Regions from separate parts of the Homo sapiens genome. Here region 2 is linked to region 1. Evidence: fine-mapped expression QTL. A gene starts in region 1. The other region holds a variant in brackets. All regions are shown on one strand. Distances are between the middles of the regions.

Region 1 (11,287 bases):
TAAGGATTAAATGAGATTAAATATGAAATACTTAGGACAATGCTTGGCACACAGTGCTTTATGTGTGCTATTACTACTACCTCATATTAAAGCTCCATATTTTTATTCTTTTGTGCCTTAAAATGAATTATTGATAACATTGCCTCTATATAGTAGGTCTGTTAAATTTTCTAAAATATAAGACTCCTAAGGTTTAAAAAAATTTAACTACAAATAATAAAAACTGAAAGTCTCAAAGTGACAGCACTGAAATCCTGGGGATAAATACAACTTTAACCTAAACGCTTCTTTCCATACAAGAAAGTAACAATGAAAACTGTCACTTGGTTACTCAAGTAGCCTAAGAATGACTCAAGTACATAGTCTCATCTCACCAAAATTCCAAAGGGCGTAGAGATAGAATAAAAGCAGGAGTCATGGCAAGAGCAATGGTAGCACAGAGAAACGAAGATCACATAAGGGAACCATAGAGTCCTCAGTGTAAAAGTCACATGACTGTTTTTTCCCTACCTACAACTATTTTTATAGTCAATTTATTAAAATCCATTTTGCAAGACAATCTATCCACTCCCTTACCTTAAAAAAATTGCTGTGTTATGACTGAATTATAAAGCATGTGCTGTTGGACTTAATTGGTTTAGTAGTCTTCCAGGTTCTAATCTCTGGAATCTTTCACCTAACAGTTCACCTAAATTTGTACTCTTAGAAAAAAGGAAGTAAGAATCCAGGTAAATAAGAGGTCATTAACTAGGCAGAGGTTGCAGTGAGCCAAGATCACAGCACTGAGGTCATCAACCAACCACACATATATGATACATGTCTGATTCCAAGTGTGATTAAAGAAAAGCTTCTAAAAAAACCACTGTGCAACCAGAAAATGAAATAAAGAGTTACAATAAGGTTTTCGAATTCTAGATTTTCATCTGTTTAACACAGGGGAATAATGGCATATGACATATTTGAAATCATAGTAATAAATAATCCATTGCTACCTTTTATTGTTAGTAATGGATTTTGAACTAAAATTTGCAATGGACTAACCTAAATGACCTAAAATTTGCATAGTAATAAATAATCCATTGCTAACTTTTATTGATAGCAACTGACTTTGACCTAAAAAACCTGCCAAATTTCAGAGCCATTAAAGACAGCATTCTATGTGATTGGTTTCCTCTATGCAGATGGGAGAGGTGCTTGTGTAGGTAATGGATCACTGGCAACATAATTCATTAGAAGAATTGAAATCTAAGTCAGGAATGGTGGCTGTAGATTAGTAATATAGATAGCAAGTTATGATCAGCATTCTCCTGAAAATAAGCTAAATCAAACCAATTTATTTTGCATCTCCATTAACATACCCTATACGAAAATCTTACATCAGATGAAATATCTCTTTTCCATGTAAGGAGATGTCAAATTTCCGAAGTATTTTGAATAGTTAATAAATTCAAAACTCACCATTGAAAATACACTGACAGTTGGTTTCTTTTCCTTCTTATCTTTTTCACTGCAAAACAGCAATGGAATTACATAAAACTTTAAAAAGTACATATTTTTTAAATTACCCAAATTAACATAGAATGTATATTTAATGACTAATAGGAAGAAGAAATATGTCTATATTATACAGTTAAAAAACAGGATGATAATAGTATGACCCCATTTATAATGTTTAAATATGTTTACATATATCTTAGAAATCTACATACGTGGTTATCACTGAGTGCTGGAATCTCTCTAAAAATATTTTCTTCCTTGTGCCTTTGATATTTCCTGATTTGCTATGATGAATACATACATACACCCTTTGCAATTAGAAAAATATACATACTGAAAAGAGTTCCCTGTTTTTATTCTAATTAGAAAATCATTCATGCTTCCCCTTAATTATGAATCCCCTTAATTGTCATTTGATTAATGATGGCAGTAGACATTTTATCCATCCACTACCCAGATATTATTCTTAATCCTTCCCTTTCTAGTGAAGAGAAGTGGCAATTAGATGCTGGGCATAACTAGCCTCAGAAGAAAATTAAATTACTCCTTATAAGCAAATCTAATTGTGAAAAAAATGTCTGGAGTCCTAAATGGACCATTATGAAATAAATGCACGCTAGAAAGCTATGGTCAGAAATGATGTTCTATAAATTGTCAAAAAGTTCTCCTCAGGCATAAGGTCAACTATTATTTTGAGCCCAGATACAAATGAATCTAACTCTGTAGCCCATTTTCTACTCTGTGTAACTGCTACCTAGGATGTGAAAGCAAACCAACCGTAACAAATCTGCCTCATCTGTATTTTTGTAGGTATAAAAGAAAAACTATTTTAGAAAAGATTTGTGTTATTTTTTACACGGTTTTTAAGTTCATAAGGTAAATTCATCTTTGTCTTTGTTCTTTACACTAAGTGAGGTCAAAAGAGGTGAGGAGACTTCTAAAGAAAAAAATCCAGAGTTTACCCATTTGGCTTTGGAGTAATGTTAGACAGACATAAAATACACAAACACAACTCTTCAGGTTTGGTCCCACCCAATTCCCAGTAAAGGCATGGTTTCAGTATCCCTGGAACCAGGATGAAAGGAGAAAAATAGCCATAAATAGTTGAGTTTTAGCTCTAAGCCTTTTATTTATTTTTTTGTTCTCTAAAACAGCTGCTACTCTGGAGAAGTTATAATGTTCCAGGCACTGGCTAAGTAAGCACTTCCCACACACAATTCATAAACAATTCTATGAGGAAGACACATTTTTGTTCTTTTAGAGACGTAGAAGAGTGAGAAGAGTTAACTTGTCCAAGGTTCACAGCTATAACTAAGCCAATATTTAAATGCCAAGTCTGTTCCCTGACCACCAAACTATAAGGTGCAACCTCAGATTTCTGAGATACTGCATCGCATCACATTAAAATGCACTTTCACACAAACTCTCACCCCTACTAGATAACTTACTTATCCCCATTAGCACAAAAAACAGTGCTTAGAAAGACAAGTCATTCATCAAACATCATTTTAATAAAGAATCTTTGCTAATAGTCATATTCCAAATAGGACTATTATCCCAGCATTATCTATTACCAAAGCCATATGCTTCTTTACAATCCCATGTTAAAATAGATTTAAATCAATGGCAATGAACACAATTTAATAAGAACTACTTTAAAATATAATCTCTAATTTGAAAAAAAAAGTCTATAGGCCATGATAGAACCAATAATAGAAATATGTGAAAGATCATACAATTTTCTTTACTGTTTCTCTTCACATACCCTCAATATTTCTTAGTTAAATCTACCTAAATGTTTGTATCATAAGTACATAATTCTTTAAGCTATCAAGTTTTCAAAAATACAAAGTTAAAAACAAAAAGTGGAATACCTACCCTCCACTCTATGGAGTCTTTTTCATGGTTTATATGAACATTTTTGTTACAAAAATTTTCAATTGCAATTACATGTTCTCCTACCATTATCACATCTAAGAAAAGTGATTACAATTCTGATATTGGCTAATATCTAATGCACATTCAAATCTCCCAAGAATGTTTTCCATAGGATTTTTTCCTTGTTGAACTTTTAGATTGTTTTTGTTTTGTTTTGTAATGTTCACACACTACGTTTGGTAGTTATATCTCTTTAGTCTCTATTAATCTAGAAGTCCTCCTTTTATTTTTTTAACATTGACTTTTGTAAAGGAACAAGAACAGCTGTCTTACAGAATGTCCCACATCTTGGGTATACCTGTATCAAACTGAATACAAATGGGAGGTGCAATAAATGTAAAATACACATCAAACAGGAGATTTAGCATAAAAGAGAATGTAAACTATCTTATTAATCATTTTGATTACATGTAGAAAATCCAATCTTTTGGACATATTGAGTTCTATAAAATATATTTACAAAATTACTTTATCTTTTTATTTTCATTTTTTACTGTTGCTACTAGAAAATTTTAAATTACAAATGTGGCTCACATGATATATCCATTGGACAGCCCCAGTCTACAAGTTTAATTGTATACAGACTAAATGTTTTTGCAGATATATTAATATTTGCTAGGTGATGTTGTTTACTCAAAATCCAAGTGATGAGTCATTTACTACAGTCCATTCTACCGTGAGAGATACCAGGTCTGATCACTCGGTTAAGGTGCTAACTGCAAAATCTTTAATTGGAGAAGCATATTCTCCTTCCAATTAGTAAACATTCTGAAGAAAATTCTTAGATACAACATTTTTCTGATAGTTTAGAGTTCATTGACAATCCTTGCCTGAATCTATTATAACAATGGAAGTTCCAAAATGATAGCTGGAATTTTTCTCTAAAGATCATTGCTTTATTTTCTCTACCTCTCACACTTTCTTTCAGTTTCCCTTCTCTCAGAATATTAAGCATTCAGCAGTAGCATTCAGTATCTCAAAATCAGTTACAGTTACGATGTTCTTTGATGCTCAAATTGTCCCAGAGTTGGCCATTGGAAGCATCTTCCAGACAGCTTCAGTGTGCTTTCGACTACTCCATTAAACTCCACTTCCTTATTTTCAGGTACCACAAGATACTCCAGGCTCACTTTCTATTTTTCCTGTCCCAGACCTGGCTGAAATTAGCTACTGAGGGGTTCATTTCTTTTAGGGAGGAATGGTATTTAGAAACCCAGATCTGGTACTAACAGTGCTCATTGTTACTGTCCCTTTCAGTGGACTGAAAATGAACTATTAAAAGATTATGAATTCATATTGAAATTTCTAATTCAAACTTAACATTATTTTTAAAAATGTATTTGATTTCCACATTTGTATTTTTTCTCTTACACTGAAAAGCTTGGTTTCTTATAATATTAATGTGTTTACTAATTTATCTTATAATTTACATTACAGTTTCTAATATTATTAAACTTACTAGTCTATTTTACAATTTACTACTAACAATGAATCTATTTAGTGAAGTTTTAAATATTCTATAAAGGCAGAGCACCATGATCAAAATTTACTTTAAATAATTATTTTCCCTATATGATTACATTACCAATATTATATACAGATATTTATTGCCAGTTAACAACCTAAATGTACTTTTGACCTTCTGTCTCATCAGCCAGGCCACAAACGCGATGTTTACATAGCCATTTACCGGAAGCAAGAGCCTGGACCACAGAGCAGATCACCAGCAGCATATGGCTCACGTGTGGGCGACCAACACCACTTGAAAAGCAGAAGTTCATAAGACAGAAACACATATGAGCATCCGCCTGTCTGGGGCAGGAAAGCTGAGAAAGAGGCACACCAAGACTAAGGGAAAGAGGCCGGGAAGGGTAAAAAGGTGAAATGAAAAGAGGTTGGTGAATGACTAAGAACGGTTGGATAGGACAAATAAGTTCCAATGTTCGATAGCAGACGAGGGTGACTACAGTTAGCAATATATTGTATATTTCAAAGTAGCTAGAAGACTTAAAATGTTATCAACACATAGAAATGAAATATACCTAAGGTGATGTATCCTTCAAATACCCGGACTTGATCATTACACATTCCGGGCATGTAAAAAACGCTTCCATGTACCCCATTTCATAAATATGTAAAATATTATGTATCATTAAAAGAAAGAACAAAAAAGACAGGGAAAATGCATATGCTGTGCTCCACTCAGCCAACAAACTTCTGCTCTAAGCAGGGATATTGATTCCAAAGGCTAGCTTGCGTTTCTTAAAAATAATTAAAAACAACAACATGTCATTTATTTCAGAGCTGGAGGCTAGAAATAAATTACTCAAATCTCGCAACTATGTAAACTATGAAAATGAAACAAGCTAGTTACCTTTTATTGTTCAGTTTAAAAAAGTTCTTCTTCTTTGCTCCTCCATTGCGGTCCCCTTCAAGATCCATTCCGACCTGAAGAGAAACCGCAGCTCATTAGCCAAATGCATGAGCCTCAGGCGCGCTGGAGGTGAGACTAACCTCTAGTCCCCCGTCGAAGCCAGAGAGCAGTAAGAGGGAGCGCCCGCCGTTGATGCCCCAGCTGCTCTGGCCGCGATGGGCACTGCAGGGGCTTTCCTGTGCGCGGGGTCTCCAGCATCTCCACGAAGGCAGAGTTGGGGGTCTGGCAGCGCGTTCTGGACTTTGCCCGCCGCCAGTGCGATTCTCCCTCCCGGTTCCAGTCGCCGCGGACGATGCTTCCTCCCACCCACCGCCCGCGGGCTCAGAGAGCAGGTCCCCGCACCGCGCGGGCTGTGCGCGCTCCGGGCAACATGGTCCAGTGCCACTACGGTTTGGGCGCTGCTCCAGGAGCTCCTGAGTCTAGATCTAACCCCACTTGGTCCCCATGGACTTGCCAGAGGACTTCACACTATCCACGCCTCAAGAAGCCCTTCTCCCGTGAAGACCAAGTTCAGGAAATCTGAAAGCCTGACACTTGGGAACTGTCCCATAGTAGCTCCCAGCTTTGCGTGCCCCTACCTCGCGCTCCTTGGAACGGCCACCAAGACGTGAAATTTTGGAAGAAGATACTCCGACTTTAGTGGAAAGACCTAAAGGAAACGAACAGCGGCCTCTGCTTCTTTGAGCTTGGAAGAGCCGCTACTCGAATGAGCTCAGGCTTCCTGTGGCAAAGAGAGCGAAGCGGCTGTGCTCAGCCCACGCCCCGGCGCTGTTCCTGCCCAGCCAATCAGCCTCACCACAGATGACTGCTCCCGGCCCGGATTGACTGAATGCTGATTCCTCGAGAAACTGCGAAACAGGTTGAATTTCCAGGAGGAATGTTCTGGCTTCCGTTGCACCTCTCTAGAAAGGGCAAGTAGAGAAACGCGCATCAGCTGAATCATTGGGGACATTTCAACTTATGTAGACACGTCTTTCAAAGTTCACATAAGTCTTCATATCCATATAACTACAGGACGTAGTTAAGGGAAATTTTCTCGGGATTCGCATTTAATACAGTTAATACAAAAACTCCGACCTCTCCAATTCTGTATCACCTTTCTGCTTCCTAACACCTTTGAAAAGGCTAGGAGAAATTTTTCTGCAGTGGTCTTTCTTCAGCATGCTTGACAGTTTCTGAGTTACATCTGTTCATCCTTTATTTGATGATAAATGGAATGAAAGAAAAAGGAAGTTTTAAAAAATATATAGAGACAGGTATTTCAAGGTACAAATGCTATTTCAAAGTGTGTAATATTTTAAAACTTCAGACGTCAGATCAATGCCCGTGTTTTTCCAGGGCATTTTAAATTCTTACATTTTAATTCAAATTAGTAAAATAAACATAGCATGTTTTAGCATATTACATTAGTTGTAATTTCCTTCCATATTTACTGCCAACATTTAATATTTTTTCCTGTCCACTATTTACTTCAAACTGAGGAAAAGTACGTGCAATCTGCACAATTCAAAATTGTAAAGCAATGCTAACTCACATCAGAGCTTTTCTTACTTCTTATGAACATAGAGGAAATAGGTTTGTTGTATCCTCTAGTCTACATTCTATGACTTTCACATATTACCTATCAGTTTATTGCATAAGTTTAGAAGAAGAAAATCACTTTGTTTTTTACTGCATAGTCTGAGGATGTTTCCACTTTCTTTAAATAACTCATACTTCAAAGCCATAATTTTTTTCTATTCTTGACTACAAATTTTCCTTATCTTGATATATTTTGTTCTTGGCCTTACAATACAATGAAGTTTTCTTTTGTTTTTCTTTCTTTTTTCTTTTTTGAGACGGAGTCTTGCTTTGTCGCCCAGGCTGGAGTGCAGTGGCAGGATCTCGGCTCACTGCAAGCTCCGCCTCCCGGGTTCACACCATTCTCCTGCCTCAGCCTCCCAGGTAGCTGGGACTACAGGCTCCCGCCACCACGCCCGGCTAATTTTTTGTATTTTTCGTAGAGACTGGGTTTCACTGTGTTAGCCAGGATGGTCTTGATCTCCTGACCTCGTGATCCGCCCGCCTCGGCCTCCCAAAGTGCAGGGATTACAGGCGTGAGCTACAGCTCGGCCTCTTTTTTTTTTTTTTTTTTTTTTTTTCACAAATTGTTAATTAGGCTTCTAACAGGCCACTATTTTTTCCACATGTTCTAATTGCATATGCAAGTGTACAGCATTGTTCACTGTTTAAAGGCTTAACAACAACCCTGTGGTCCATCTGGGGTAAATGTAAAAGCTTTCATCTTCATTACATGCGTTTTTAATCTTATTTGTGCCTATGATCTCTGTTTTCACTTTTGTTTTGCTTTGTTGCTTTATCTCACCTTTCATTTATGTAATCTTGTTGTATTTTATGTATCCTTTTGAATGGCCTTAAACCCTCCCTAAACAGTGCAGGATATAAATACAGTGCTATACTGTTATGTTGATTATACTATTTCTACAATCTTGAGCATCAGGTAAAGATCTCTATCAAAGATATAAGTAAGTTAAAGATCAGAATAACACAGATTTTAAAAATAAGATTCTACCATTCTATTATATTGTATTCCATTTCTTTGCTCCACTGACATGAAAGTGTGAATATAAAACATGATGGACCTAAAACAAACTAGCTCTTGCTACTTTCAACAGTCCTTGGTTTCTTGAAAGACACCAGTCTTGCATTTGTGCCACCACCACTTCTGTCAAGCTGAACTTGGCTGTTCTCCTTAAGCTTCCTTAATTTCTGATGAAACCTACCTGGTCCCCTTGCAAGTTGACACTCATATACCTTCATTCAAGCGGTGATATTTCCATTTGAAGTGACTGCCACAATCTGCACCTTCTTGTCCTCCGCTCTCATGTAGCCATTTCACCAACTTGTCTATACTCTGACAACATTAAAGATTTGCCTCTCTGCTGCAGTCTGTTCTATATGTATCTATGGGAGTAATAATATATAATGATAATAATAACAACTAACATTTATTAACTACTGGTCATTTATCAGGAACTGCCAAGCACTTCAAAGAAATTAAGTCATTTAATCTTTACAAGAATCCTATGAAGTAGTTACTATTTTTGTTACTCCCATATTACAATAAAAGACACTGAGGTTTGCATTATTTGCCCAGTCACACAGCAGGTAAGGTGCTAACCAGTAGTCCCTCTCTCATAACTGTACTCTTAACCACTATCCTACACTGTAGTACATTATCATAGGACACACCACTTCACTGCCTTTTCCAGTCCCACGAAGTGTTTTCTCCTTATGAGTCCATCTTGGAAAACCTGCAATGGCTCCCTGCCACAGACTATATCATATCTAACAGTTTCCTCTTAGCTTTTAAGAACCACAACACATCACTTCTCTCTAATCATCTTCCTCACCCTCAACATGTACATGTTCACTCCATTTCAGCCAAACTCACTGGGCTTCTCAGATGATATGTGCTTTTCACTCTGTGCTTTTCCACATGTAAATCATTAAACTAAACTAATTTACAAAAGTTTTCTTCTTTAGTACCTGGCTGCATTAAACTATTTGGACTTCAAAGGCAGAAAAACTTAGATAAGGACCATCTCTGCTGATTATTATGCATAGGTTTGAACGGGTTACTTAACTCTGCTATCCCACAGTTACCTTTTTGGTAAAGAGTAGATAGTATCTTCTAATGTTATGGCAAGATTAAGTGATTTGTGTATTTAAAAGATTTGTACAGTGCCTGAAACACCCTAAACATTCAACATTGCTATATATTAGTAATAATGCCCTCTTCTCAATCTCTTTTTGCCCTCCTTAGCATTCTTTGCAACTCATGTATGTAGTCACATCTATGTATCCATATACGTTTGACCTATTATTCTCATATCCCAGCTCTGAGTCCTTTATTATGAGTATTAACAACACATTTATAGAAATTAAAAAGCTGTTCACCTATTTTTCCTTCTCCTATGGTTTTTAATTCTTTTGGATGTTTTTCTCATAATTCTTTTATTGTAAATCTTATGTATCTTTCTCTGATCTCTCTAATAATTTATTTTCTGTATTTTTCCTAGCTCCTCTATTTAGCCCATCTGAGTCCAGATTGAAGGTTCAACATGCTTAAAGAAGGAATGCAACTCACCTCAATGAAGTTAATTGACCTGAGGCAGAGAAAGAATACAAGTTTCCACTCAGTCCAAAGAGCAAGACATATGACTCACTTGTGTTAACAATAATAACACAATATTGTTATTGTGTTACAATAACACAATAATAAGGGATCCACACACTCTCCACCCTTTCACATGTAATGATTTTTATGTATGAAGGACATGTGATGATAGGGGATATTAAATGACTGTACTTGATAGGGGATATTAAATGACTGTGCTTGAACTCATGTTGGATTACATCAGATTGCTTCTATGGACACCTGCATTGAAAAAAAAATCCAGATTCCGAAGGTCAATAGGATCATTTTCAGAGGTCGTTTGTCTTGCCATCATTTAGCCAATACAGCAACAGACATGAGTTGTGTGAAATGGTGATCAGATGATGATAAATTAATTTAATTTTAATTAAGTCGCTTAGTGAGTTAGCCATGTGATAAGTCGATGGCAAATGGAAACCTGAATTATACTCCTCTTTGAACACTTCCCCATCTACTACAGCCAGAAATATTTTCTACCACTCCGCAATCCTACTTTTCAGTATCGGCATCTCTCATTTTGTATTTATTATTAATGTTTCATATGATTATGAATTTTTTAAATATTCAAACTGGACAGAGACTTATACAAAATAAAGTTTCAATAAATGTTTGTAGAAAATATTAGGTGCTGAGAGTATGACATCAGAGGCAGATTTATGGAAATTACACTAGTAGGCTAAATGCCTAAGTTATCATTAGCGTGCCTTCAAAGATCCGTTGCCATGAACTATCTCCCTTATCAACTTCTTTTTATTGAGATGGAGTATTACTCTGTCTCCCAGGCTGGAGTGTAGTGTTAATAATCCAGGCGCACTGCAACCTCCGCCTCCTGGGTTCCAGCAATTCTCATGCCTCAGCCTCCTGAGTAGCTGGGATTATGGGAGTGCACCAGCACACCAGGCTAATTTTTGTAATTTTAGTAGAAATGGGGTTTCACCACATTGACTAGGCTGATCTTGAACTTCTGGCCTCAAGTGATCCACCCACCTCAGCCTCCCAAAGTGCTGGGATTATAGGCATGAGCCACCACGCCCAGCCTCCTCTATCAACTTCTAAGATCTTTAAAACTCCATTAGAGAATCATCTCTCTGAGTAAGTCACTGCCCCCTATTAAAATAAATCTACCATAATAGCACAAGAAATGTTTTTAAATGAATGACAAAATTAAGAGGAGAGAAGACAACTGAGTAAGATAAAGG
Region 2 (11,287 bases), 82 kb after region 1:
AATATTTAAGAAACTCAGTAGAAAACAACAACAACAACAACAACATTAAAAAATGGGCAAAGAGGCCAGGCGCAGTGGCTCACACCTATAATTCCATCACTTTGGGAGGCCAAGGCAGGTGGATTGCTTGAGGTCAGGAGTTCAAGACAACCAGCCTGGCCAACATGGTGAAACCCCATCTCTACTGAAAACACAATAATTAGCCAGGTATAGTGGTGTATGCCTGTAGTCCCAGCTACTCAGGAGGCTGAGGCCCGAGAATTGCTTGAACCTAGGAGGCAGAGGTTGCAGTGAGCCAAGATCATGCCATTGCACTCCAGCCTGGGCAACAGAGCAAGACCCTGTCTCAAAAAAAAAAAAAAAAAAAAAAAAAAGATAAATGCCTTTACCATGTTCCATTACCTGGATCACAACTCCTTGCCTTATCTTAAAATCACTCATATTCCCTTCCACTAAATAATAAAAATGGGCAGAGGATCAGAAAACATACAGATGGCCAACTGATATATGAAAAGACACTCGATATCACTACTCATCAGAGAAATGCAAATCTAAACCACAAAATTTAATAATGCCTTACATCTGTCTAGATGGCCAGTATAAAAAACAATCAAAAGATAACAAGTGTTGGCAAGGATGTGGAGAAAAGGGAACCTTCCTACTCTATTGGTGGGAATGTAGATTAGGACAGCCATTATGGAAAACAGTATGGAGGTTCCTCAAAAAATTACAAGTAGAACTGCCATATGATCCAGCAGTTCTACTTCTGGGTTATTTATTGAAAGAAGATAAAATCAGTATTTGGAAGAGATATTTGCACTTCTATGTTTATTGCAGGATTTTTAACAGTAGCCAAGATATTAAGACAACCTAAGTAGCTGTCAACAGAAGGATGGATTAATAAACTACAGTGTATATAACACACACACACACACACACACACACACACACACACCACAATGGAATACCATTTCAGATTTAAAAAAAAAAAAAAAGGAAATCCTGCGATTTGCAGTAACAGATGAACCTGGAGGTCAATAAACTACATGAAATATGCAAGACACAGAAAGACAAATACCACGTGATCTCATGTATTAGATATGGAGCCTAAAAATAGTCAAACTTATAGTAACAGAGAGTAAAATGTTGATTACCAGAGGCTGGGGGATAGGAGAAAAGGGGAGATATTGGTCAAAGGGTACAAGCCTTCAGTTATAAGATGATTAAGTGCTGGAGACCTATATTGTGTACTTGAAAATTGCTATGATAGTAGATCTCAAGTGTTCTCACCATACATACACACACAAAAATCCAAAACAGAACAAAACAAAAAACCCAACAAAACCTCAAAAGGGATAAACTTAAAGTTAACTGCTTCTAAACACATGATAATCAAACTTCTAAACATAGAAGATTACAGCAAAAAATCTTGAAACCTGCCAGAGAAATATAATTTATTACATATAGGGAACAACAGTTCAAGTGAATGCAGGGTTTTCAACAGGAACCATGGAGGACAGATGACAGTGAAATAGCATCTTTAGAGTTCTAAAAGAAAAGCACTGCTAACCCAGAATTCTGTATTCAGTGAAAATGTACTTCAGAGATGAGGACAAAATAAAGAAATTCCCAGATAAAGGAAAACTAAGAATTATTACTAGCAAATCTGGTCTAAAAGAAATGCTAACAAAAGTTCTTCAGGCTAAAGGGAGATGGTATCAGAAGAAAACTTGGAACTTCATGAATGAAGAAAGAGCAACAGAAACTGTGAATATCTAAATAAATACAGCAGAGTTTTTCTCCTCTATTAAGGTCTTTCAATATGACTACTCAAGCAATCCTCCCATTTCAGCCTCTCAAAGTTCTGGGATTACAGGTGTGAGCCACCATGCCTGGCCCTGACTCTACTCTTGAAAGCAAAATTTATGGCATTGCTGGGGAAGGTTTCCAGGTTTGCATGTATAGTACAAGTGACTTTTAAAGCAAAGGCTACAGAGTAAAGGGAACTATGTGGTTATATATATTTAGTTGAAATGCTAAAATGTTAACTGTAGACTATTAAATATTAGGTGTTCTATTTCATAAAGTAGTGACTATAAAGATACTAAGAGTTTTTAGCCAAAAAAGCCAATAAATAAATTAAAATGGAACATTAAAACATTAAAGTTATCCAAAAAGAAGGTGGTGAAAAAAGGGATAAACAGAAAACAAACAATAAAATGGTAGACCTAAATCAAACCTTATTAATAGATATGTTAAATATAAATGGCCTAAGCACTCCAATTAAAAGAGATTTTTTGACTGGGTAAAAAAAGGACTCAATATATACAGAAACCCATTTTAATTATAGTGATAAAGATAGGTTAAAAGGATAGAAAAAGTTATTCCATGCAGAAAGTAATTGAAAAAAAGTTGGAGTAGATTTAATTATATATCAAAGTAGATTTCAGAACAAAGAAAACTGACAGGGATAAAGTTGGACATTTACATATTAAAAAGCAGATTAATTTGCCAAGAAGACAGAACAAAACCAAAGTATGTATGCAGCTGATAACAGAGTCTAAAAAGCAAAAGGTAACAGAACTGAGAGGAGAAAATAGAAAAATCTACATTATACTTAGCAATGTCAACACTCCTCTCATAATAGTAGATCAAGTAAACAGAAAATTAGTAAGGGTACAAATGATCTTGGCAATATTATCAGCCAACTGACATTTATAAAACACCCCAACTTTTTTTTTTTTTTTTTTTTTTTGAGACAGAGTCCCGCTCTTTCCCCCAGGCTGGAGTGCAGTGGCGCGATCTTGGCTCACTGCAAGCTCCTCCTCCTGGGTTCACACCATTCTCCTGCCTCAGCCTCCCAAGAAGCTGGGACTACAGGTGCCCGCCACCACGCCCGGGTAATTTTTTTGTATTTTTAGTAGAGACGGAGTTTCACAGTGTTAGCCAGGATGGTCTCCATCTCCTGACCTCGTGATCCACCCACCTTGGCCTCCCAAAGTGCTGGGATTACAAGTGTGAGCCACCGTGCCCGGCCCCCAACTTTTTTTTAAGACAGGATCTCACCCTGTCACCCAGGTTGGAGTGCAATGGCACAATCATGGCTCACCACAGCCTCCACATCCCCAAGCTCAAATGATTCTCCCACCTCAGGTTCCTGAGTAGCTGGGACTACAGGCACACACCACTACACCCAGCTAATTTTTTGATTTTTTATAGAGGCTAGGTCTCACTATGTTGCCCTGGCTGGTCTCGAACTACTGGGCTCAAGTGGTCCTCTCACTTCAGCCTTTCAAAGTGCTGAGATTACAAGTGTGAACCACTGTGCCTGGCCACCCCAACATTTATAATTAACATTTATAAAATACTCCTCAGTGGCAGAATATATATTCTTTTCGAGGGCAAGTGGAACATTAAAAAAGATCTTATTCTGAGCCATAAAAGAAACCTTAGCAAATTTAAAAGAATTGAAATCATATAAAGTATGTTCTCTGTAATGGAATGAAACTAGATGTCAAGAACAGAAGATATCTGAAAAATCACCAAATGTTTGAAAATGTAAAAATACACTTTTTTAAACAAATTATACTTTACATGTGCCATGGTGGTTTGCTGCACCCATCAACCTGTCACCTACATTAGGTATTTCTCCTAATGTTATCCCTACCCTAGCCACCCACCCCTAGACAGGCCCCAGTATATGACGTTCCCCACCCTGTGTCCATGTGTTCTCGTTGTTCAACTTCCACTTATGAGTGAGAACATGCAGTGTTTGGTTTTCTGATCTTGTAATAGTTTGCTGAGAGTGATGGTTTCCAGCTTCATCCATGTCCCTGCAAAGGACATGACCTCATCCCTTTTTGTGGCTGCGTAGTATTCCATGGTGTGTATGTGCCACATTTTCTTAATCCAGTCTATCATTGATAGACATTTGGGTTGGTTCCAAGTCTTTGCTAATAACTCTTGGATCAAAGAGGGATTCTCGAGGAAAATTAGTCTTTTGAACTGAATGAAAAACTAAAACGCGTTGTATCAAAATGTGTAGCATGCAATTAAAGCAGCACTTAGAAGGAAATTTAAAACATTAAAAACTTACTTAGAAAGAATTGTCTGAAATCAGTAACCTAAGCTTTCACCTTAAGAAACTAAAAAAGGGGCCGGGCCCGGTGGCTCACGCCTGTAATCCCAGCACTTAGGGAGGCCAAGGCGAGTGGATCACCTTAGGTCAGGAGTTTAAGGCCAGCCTGACTAACATGGTGAAACCCCGTTTCTACCAAAAATACAAAAAATTAGCCAGGCATGGTGGTGTGTGCCTGTAATCCCAGCTACTTAGGAGGCTGAAGGCAGGAGAATCACTTGAACCTGGGAGGCGGAGGGTGCAGTGAGCCAAGATCGCGCCATTGCACTCCAGCTTGGGCAAGGAGTGAAACTCCATCTCAAAAAAAAGAAAAGAAAAGAAAAAAGAAAAAGAAACTAAATAAAGAAGGGAAAATTAAACCCAAAACAAGCAAAATGGAGGAAATAATAGATAAAAGCAGAAATCAATGAAATTAAAAACAAAAACAATAATTGGTGATATGAAAGGATGATTGCTTGAAATCATTAATAAAATTCATAAACTTCTGGTTAGGCTGATCAAGAAAATGAGAAAGGATACAAATTTCCAATATCAGGAATGAAAGAGGGCATATGACTACAGACCTTACATTCAAAGGATAAAAAGTTAATTGTGGAGGAAATGGGCCAATTTCTTGAAAGACAAATCCTAACAAAACTCATAAAGAAGTAGATAACACAAATAGTCCTATATCTATTAAAGAAGTTGAATCAGTATTTAAAACCTTCCAACAATGAAAACTCCAGGCCTAGATATTTTTGCTGTTGATTGCAACCAGCCATTAAGGTAATAATAGTAATCCTATTCAATCCATCTCAGAAAATAGGAGATAACATTTCTCAACTCATTTTATAAGGAAACTATTAGCCTGATACAAAATTAGACAAAATATTACAAGAAAAGGAAACTCTACTCATACTGAGGTATATTGCTTGTTCAGTTCAAGACTAATTCAATAAAGTAAATATTGCTATAAAGCAAGTCACAAAAAATTTTTGGTTTCCCCAGTGCGTATTAAAAGTTGTATTTACACTACACTGTAATCTATTAAGTGTGTAATAGCATTATGTCTAAAAAATGTACATACCCTAATTAAACTACTTTACTGCTAAAAATGCTAACAATCATCTGAGCCTTCAGCAAGTCATTACCTTTTTGCTGGTGGAGGGTCTTGCCTCAATATTGATGGCTGCTGACTGATTGATGTGCTGGCTGCTGAAGGATGGGGTGGATATGACAATGTCTTAAGACAACAATGGGCTGGGCACAGTGGCTTACAGCTATAATCCCAGCACTTGGGAGCCAAGGCAGGAGGATCACTTGAGTTCCAGACCAGTCTGGGCAATATAGCAAGACCCCATCTCAACAACAACAACAAAGAGACAGCAGTGAATTTTGCTGCATCCATGGACTCTTCCTTTCATGAAAGGTTTCTCTCTAGCATGCAATGTTATTTGGTAGCGTTCTACCCACAGTAGAACTTCTTTCAAAATTGGAGTCAATACTCTCAAACCCTGCCACTGCTTTATCAACTAAGTTCATTTAATATCTTAAATCTTCTGTTGTTGTCATTTCAATAATGTTCACAGTGTCTTCACCAGGAGTACATTCCATTTCAAGAAACCACTTTCTTTGCTCATCCATAAGAAGGAACTCCTCATCTGTTCAAGTTTGATCATAAGATTGCAATAATTCAGTCACATCTTCAAGTTCTACTTCTAGTTCTCTTGCGATTTCCATGTTATCTGCAATGACTCCTTCCACCAAAGTCTTGAACCCCTCTAAGTCATCCATGAGAGTTGGAATCAACTTTTTCCAAATTCCTGTTAATGTTGATATTCTGTTAATGTTGATATTTTAACCTCTTCTCATAAATCTCGAATGTTCTTGA[C/T]GAATCTTTTCCAGAAGATTTTCAATTTACTTTGCCCAGATCCATCAGAAGACTCATTGTCTATGGAGGCTAGAGCCTTAAGAAATATACTTTTTCAATAGTAAGACTTGGGTCTAAATTACTTCCTGATCCCTGGGCTACAGATTGGATGTTGTGTTAGAAGCCATGAAAACAACATTAATCTCCTGGTACATCTCTGTCATAGTTCTTGGGTGACTAGGTGCATTGTCAATGAGCAGTAATACTTTGAAAGGAATCTTTTTTCTGAGTAGTGGATCAAAACAATGGGCTTTGAATATTTAGTAAGCCAAACTGTAAACAGAGGAGCTGTCATCCAGGCTTTGTTGCTCCATTTATAGAGCTCAGGCAGAGTAGATTTAGCATAATTCTTAAATACCCTAGGATTTTTTGGAATGGTAAATAAGCATTGGCTTCAACTTAAAGCCACCAGCTGCGTTAGCCCCTAATAAGAGAGTCAGCCTGTCCTTTGAAGCGTTAAAGCCAGGCATTAACTTCTCTTCTTTTACTATGAAAGGTTTAGATGGCATCTTCTTCCAATATAAAGCTGTTAGGTCTACATTGAAAATCTGTTGTTTAGTGTAGCCACCTTCATCAGTTATCTTAGTTCAGTCTTCTGGATAAGTTAGCACAACTTCTCCATCAGCACTTGCTGCTTCACCTTTTTGTTTTATTATTATTATTTTTTTATGTACAGAGATGGCTTTTTTCTGAAACTTCATGAACCAACCTCTGCTAGCTTCAAACTTTTCTTCTGCGGCGTCTTTGCCTCTCTCATCCTTCATAGCATTAAAGAGAGGACCTTACTGTGGATTAGGCTTTGGCTTAAGAGAATGTTGTGGCTGGTTTGGTCTTCTATTCAGACCACTCAAACTTTCTTCATATCAGCAATAAGGCTCTTTCACTTCCTTCATGTGTTCACTGGAATAGTACTTTTAATTTCCTTTGAACTTTTTCTTTGTATTCACCACTTGCCTAACTGGCACAAGAGGCCTAGGTTTTGGCTATCTCAGTTTTTGACATGCCTTCCTCAATAAGATTAATCGTGTACAGCTTTTGATTTAAAGTGAGATATATGCCACTCTTCACTTAGAGGCCATTATAGGATTATTAATTGGCCTAATTTCAGTATTGTTGTGTCTCAAGGGAATAGGGAGACCTGAGGAGAAAGAGAGAGATGGGAAATGGCCGGTAGCTGGAGCATTCAGAACACACACATTTATCAATTAAGCTTGCCATTTTATACAGGTGTGGTTCATGGCGCCCCAAAATTATTACAATAGTAACATCAAAGATCACTCATCACAGTTCACCATAACAGATACAATAATAATGAAAAAGTTTGAAATACTGTGAGAATTACCAAAACATGACAGGGAGACACAAAGTAAGCACATGCTATTGGAAAAATTGCACCGAAAGACTTGCTGGATGCAAGGTTGACACAAACCTTCAACGTGTAAAAAATACAATATCTGCAAAGCACAATAAAGTGAAATACATTAAAACAAGAAATGACTGTACATACCAGTACACCTCATGGACACAGACATCAGAATCTTCAATAAATATTGACAGATCAAACTGGAATGCAAGAATGCTTCAGTACTTGAAAATGGATGTATTTCATTTTATTAGCAGACTAAAGAATAAAAATGATAGGATCCTACTAATAGGTGCATAGAAAAGCATTTGACAAAATTCAACTTTAATTCATGTTAAAAAAAATCTTTACAGCTAGGTATTAGAAGAAAACTTCCTTAAAGGGCATCTACAGAAGTTTACAACAGGGTTTCTCAACATTGATACTGTTGATATTCTGGATGGGTAATTCTTCATTACAGATTGGAAAACTCGTTGTTAAGATGTCAGTTCTTTTCATATTGTTTTATAGATTCAATGCAATCTCAAAGTTTTAGAAGGCTTTTTTTGTAGATATAAAACTTACTCTAAAATTTATATGTCTAGGCAAAGTAACTGGAATAGGCAAAACAATTTCATGAAGGAAGAACTAAGTTGGAAACTCAAATTATCTGATTTTAAGACTTACTGTTAAGATGCAGTAATCAGTGTGTTATTGGTAAAAGCTTATACGTATAGATAAATAGAGCAGACCCAGCACTTTGGGAGGCCGAGGCAGGCGGATCATGAGGTCAAGAGATCGAGACCATCCTGGCCAACATGGTGAAATCCCATCTCTACTAAAAATACAAAAAATTAGTTGGGCATGGTAGCACGTGCCTGTAGCCCCAGCTACGCAGGAGGCTGAGGCAGGAGGATTGCTTGAACCCAGGAGGCAGAGATTGCAGTGAGTCGAGATCGTGCCACTGCACTCCAGCCTGGTGACAGAGTGAGACTCCGTCTCAAAAAAAAAAAAAAAAAAAAAAAAAAAGAATAGAATAGAATAGAGAGTTTGGAAAAAGATACACATAAATATGCTTGATTCATTTTGCTAATGCAAAGACAATTTCATGGAAAAGTGATAACCTTTAAGAATAATAGGCTAGGATTAATTGAATACCTGTGTGCAAAAAAAAAGTGAACCTTGTTCCTTACCTCACATTTAGCTCAAGGTGGGTTATAGGTGTAAACACAAAATGTAAAAGTATAAAACTCTTAAAAATGTAGAATATCTTTGTTTAATTAGGCAAACAGATTTTAGATATAACAACAAAAGTACAATCCATTAAACAAAAAAAATTGATAAAGTGGACTTCATCAAAATTAAAAGCTTTTACTCCCTGAAAGACACTGTTAATGATAAGACAAGGCATAGACCAGGAAAAAATATTTGCAAATCACATGTTTGACAAAGGGATTGTATGCATAATATACAAAGAATTGCTATAAAAACCTTAATAATATGAAAACCAATCCAATTTTAAAATATGCAAAGAGCTGAACAGATATTTCATCAAAGAAGATACACATATGGCAAGTAAACAAATGAAAAGATGTTCAACATCATTAGTAATTAGGAAAATGCAAATTCAAACCATATTAGGTAGCACTACACACCTTTATCAAGCTCTTTTGTCAAAAACTGGAAACAACCCAAGTATCTTTCATGTGATGCCTGGATAAACTGTTGTATGTTCATACACTGGACAAACTCAGTAATAAAAAGGAAAAAAAATTTCCACACACAACAACATGTATAAATGTCAGATACATTATGGCTAAATGAAAGAAGCAAAACCCTAAAGATTACGTATGATTCCATTTATATGACATTCTAGGAAAGACCAAACTGTAGTATCAGAGAACAGATAAGTGGTACTAGGGATTAAAGGTTGCAGGGTGGGGGTTGACAAGCATCATGATGAAGGAGTTTCTTTGCATGATGAAACTGTTATGTGTCTCATAATCATGGTTACATGACTCCCTCTATTTTTCAAAACTCATAGCAACAGCAAATTTACTACAAGGAATAAATGTATAACTCCCCCAAATTCTATTGCTTCCCATTAAAACATTTTAAAATGGGGAGGATCCCACTTTCGATTATAATATGTAAGATTCTAACTCCTTGATCCTCACTTATTTTAGAAAGCTGGACAATTTGTCACAGAGCCCAGTAAAAAGAAGTCCCAAGGAATACTCCTTTACCATCACCCCTCCATATTTTTCTTGGCCAAGTATTACTTCTACTTTTTCTCTGCTTTGGAAATGAATCATAACCTGAGTTCCCTGTTCTTTTTCTGAAACAGATGCCTTAAATTTACACTTGATGTATACTTTCTGCTTTTTTTGGCTTCCCTCCACCCACAATTTTTTTTCTTACAATTTTTCTATTCTCTTTACCTCATTCATTCTCTTATTCAACAACAAATTTAGGCCCTGTGCTGGGGGCCCAGGATATGAGATTAATAAGGTATGCTTTCACATGAAACTCAGTCTTGAAAGGTAGAATAAGGACACATTAACAAATAATTGTGTGTACTAATGTCATCAAGTCATAATAGAAGTATATTAACGAGCATGGTGTAACACAAAGGAGTATATCTGTTTTTCTTGGATGGGTGAGGGAAGGCTTTACACAAGAAAGAGGCATAGAAGTACCTCAAATGAAAATTACAGTTCTTTAAAATGTCATCTGTGACTTTGATTATTTATGGACTGACTGGTAGGCCACATAGATTAAGAAAAATAGAAATTTAGCAGTAAAGTCATCAGAGACAACGTTGTAAACTTCAGCTTGGTGACATGAGGATGGGATGTATTAGTGATTTTTGTAAAGTTTATATGGAAAATAACTGATTAAAATGAAAAAGTTAGCCAGGTGCAGTGGCTCATGCCTGTAATCCCAGCACTTTGGGAGCCAAGGCAGGCAGATCACTTGAGGCCCAGGAGTTTGAGACCCACCTGGGCAACATGGTGAAACCCCGCCTCTAGAAAAAAAAAAAAAAAAGAATTAACTGAGCATGTAGGTGTGCATCTGTAGTCCCAGCTACTTGGGAGGCTAAGGTGGGAGGGTCACCTGAGCCCAAGGAGACCAAGGCTGCAGTGAGCCATGATTGTGCCACTCCACTCCAGCCTGGACAACAGAGGGAGACTCTATCTCCAAAAGAAAAAAAAAAAAAAGAAAGAAAAGAAAAAGCTGAGTATACCAGACAAGTATAGACTGTCAATTAGAAATGTAGCACTTATTAAAGAAAAAATGATTAAATGTAAGACACTGTTAAATTGCGTATAATTTAATCTGCTAATTATACTTATTAACATTTGGCTTGCTGACTCACATTCAGTTTAGATTTTATATTGATTCTTAATATTTTTTCAGTTATATTTGTGTACAGCTAGTTTTTCCCCCACAACTTACTGTTCTCTACCCTTATCAGTCTTTTGATTTTTCTTGACTATATCAGGCACATTCTACCACAGGGCACCATTGCACTGGCTGTTTACTGTGTAAGGAGCACACTTCTTCTAGTATCTGAATGGTTAACACCCTCATCCATTTGAAAACTACTCCATGAGGTTTAACCCTTCCACTATATTTTAAATAATAAATCACCTCCCCTCCTTTCAACCTCAAGCACTCCTGACCTCTTTCCCCTGAGTTACATTAAGTCTTAACTTCTAGCATATTATTTTATGTACTTATTATGATTATTGTTTATTATCTTTCTTCACCTCCACTAAAACGTAAGCTTTACCAGGACTAAGATCTTCATCTGTTTTGTTCATTGGTGTATCCAAATCTCTAGAGCAGTGCCTACGATATGGCAGAAACTCAGTCATTATTTGTTGAAAAATTG

What was found.
Region 2: its variant is fine-mapped to the expression of ABCB1 in whole blood (TOPMed, PIP above 0.99).

Annotation. Positions count from the first base shown.
Region 1 is chr7:87,594,308-87,605,594 of GRCh38, forward strand. ABCB1 (ATP binding cassette subfamily B member 1) reads right to left here and starts at 6,577. Exons shown (of 28, transcript NM_001348946.2): 1 at 6,448-6,577; 2 at 5,810-5,883; 3 at 1,459-1,507. The coding sequence starts at 5,877. RefSeq lists enhancers at 4,680-5,879, 5,089-5,478.
Region 2 is chr7:87,676,356-87,687,642 of GRCh38, forward strand. The region is part of intron 2 of RUNDC3B (RUN domain containing 3B); the gene reads left to right. It also overlaps a transcript of ABCB1 not described here. Among named protein-coding and RNA genes, the nearest start is that of RUNDC3B, 54 kb to the left of the region's middle. The variant C/T (reference allele first, on the strand shown) is at 6,009.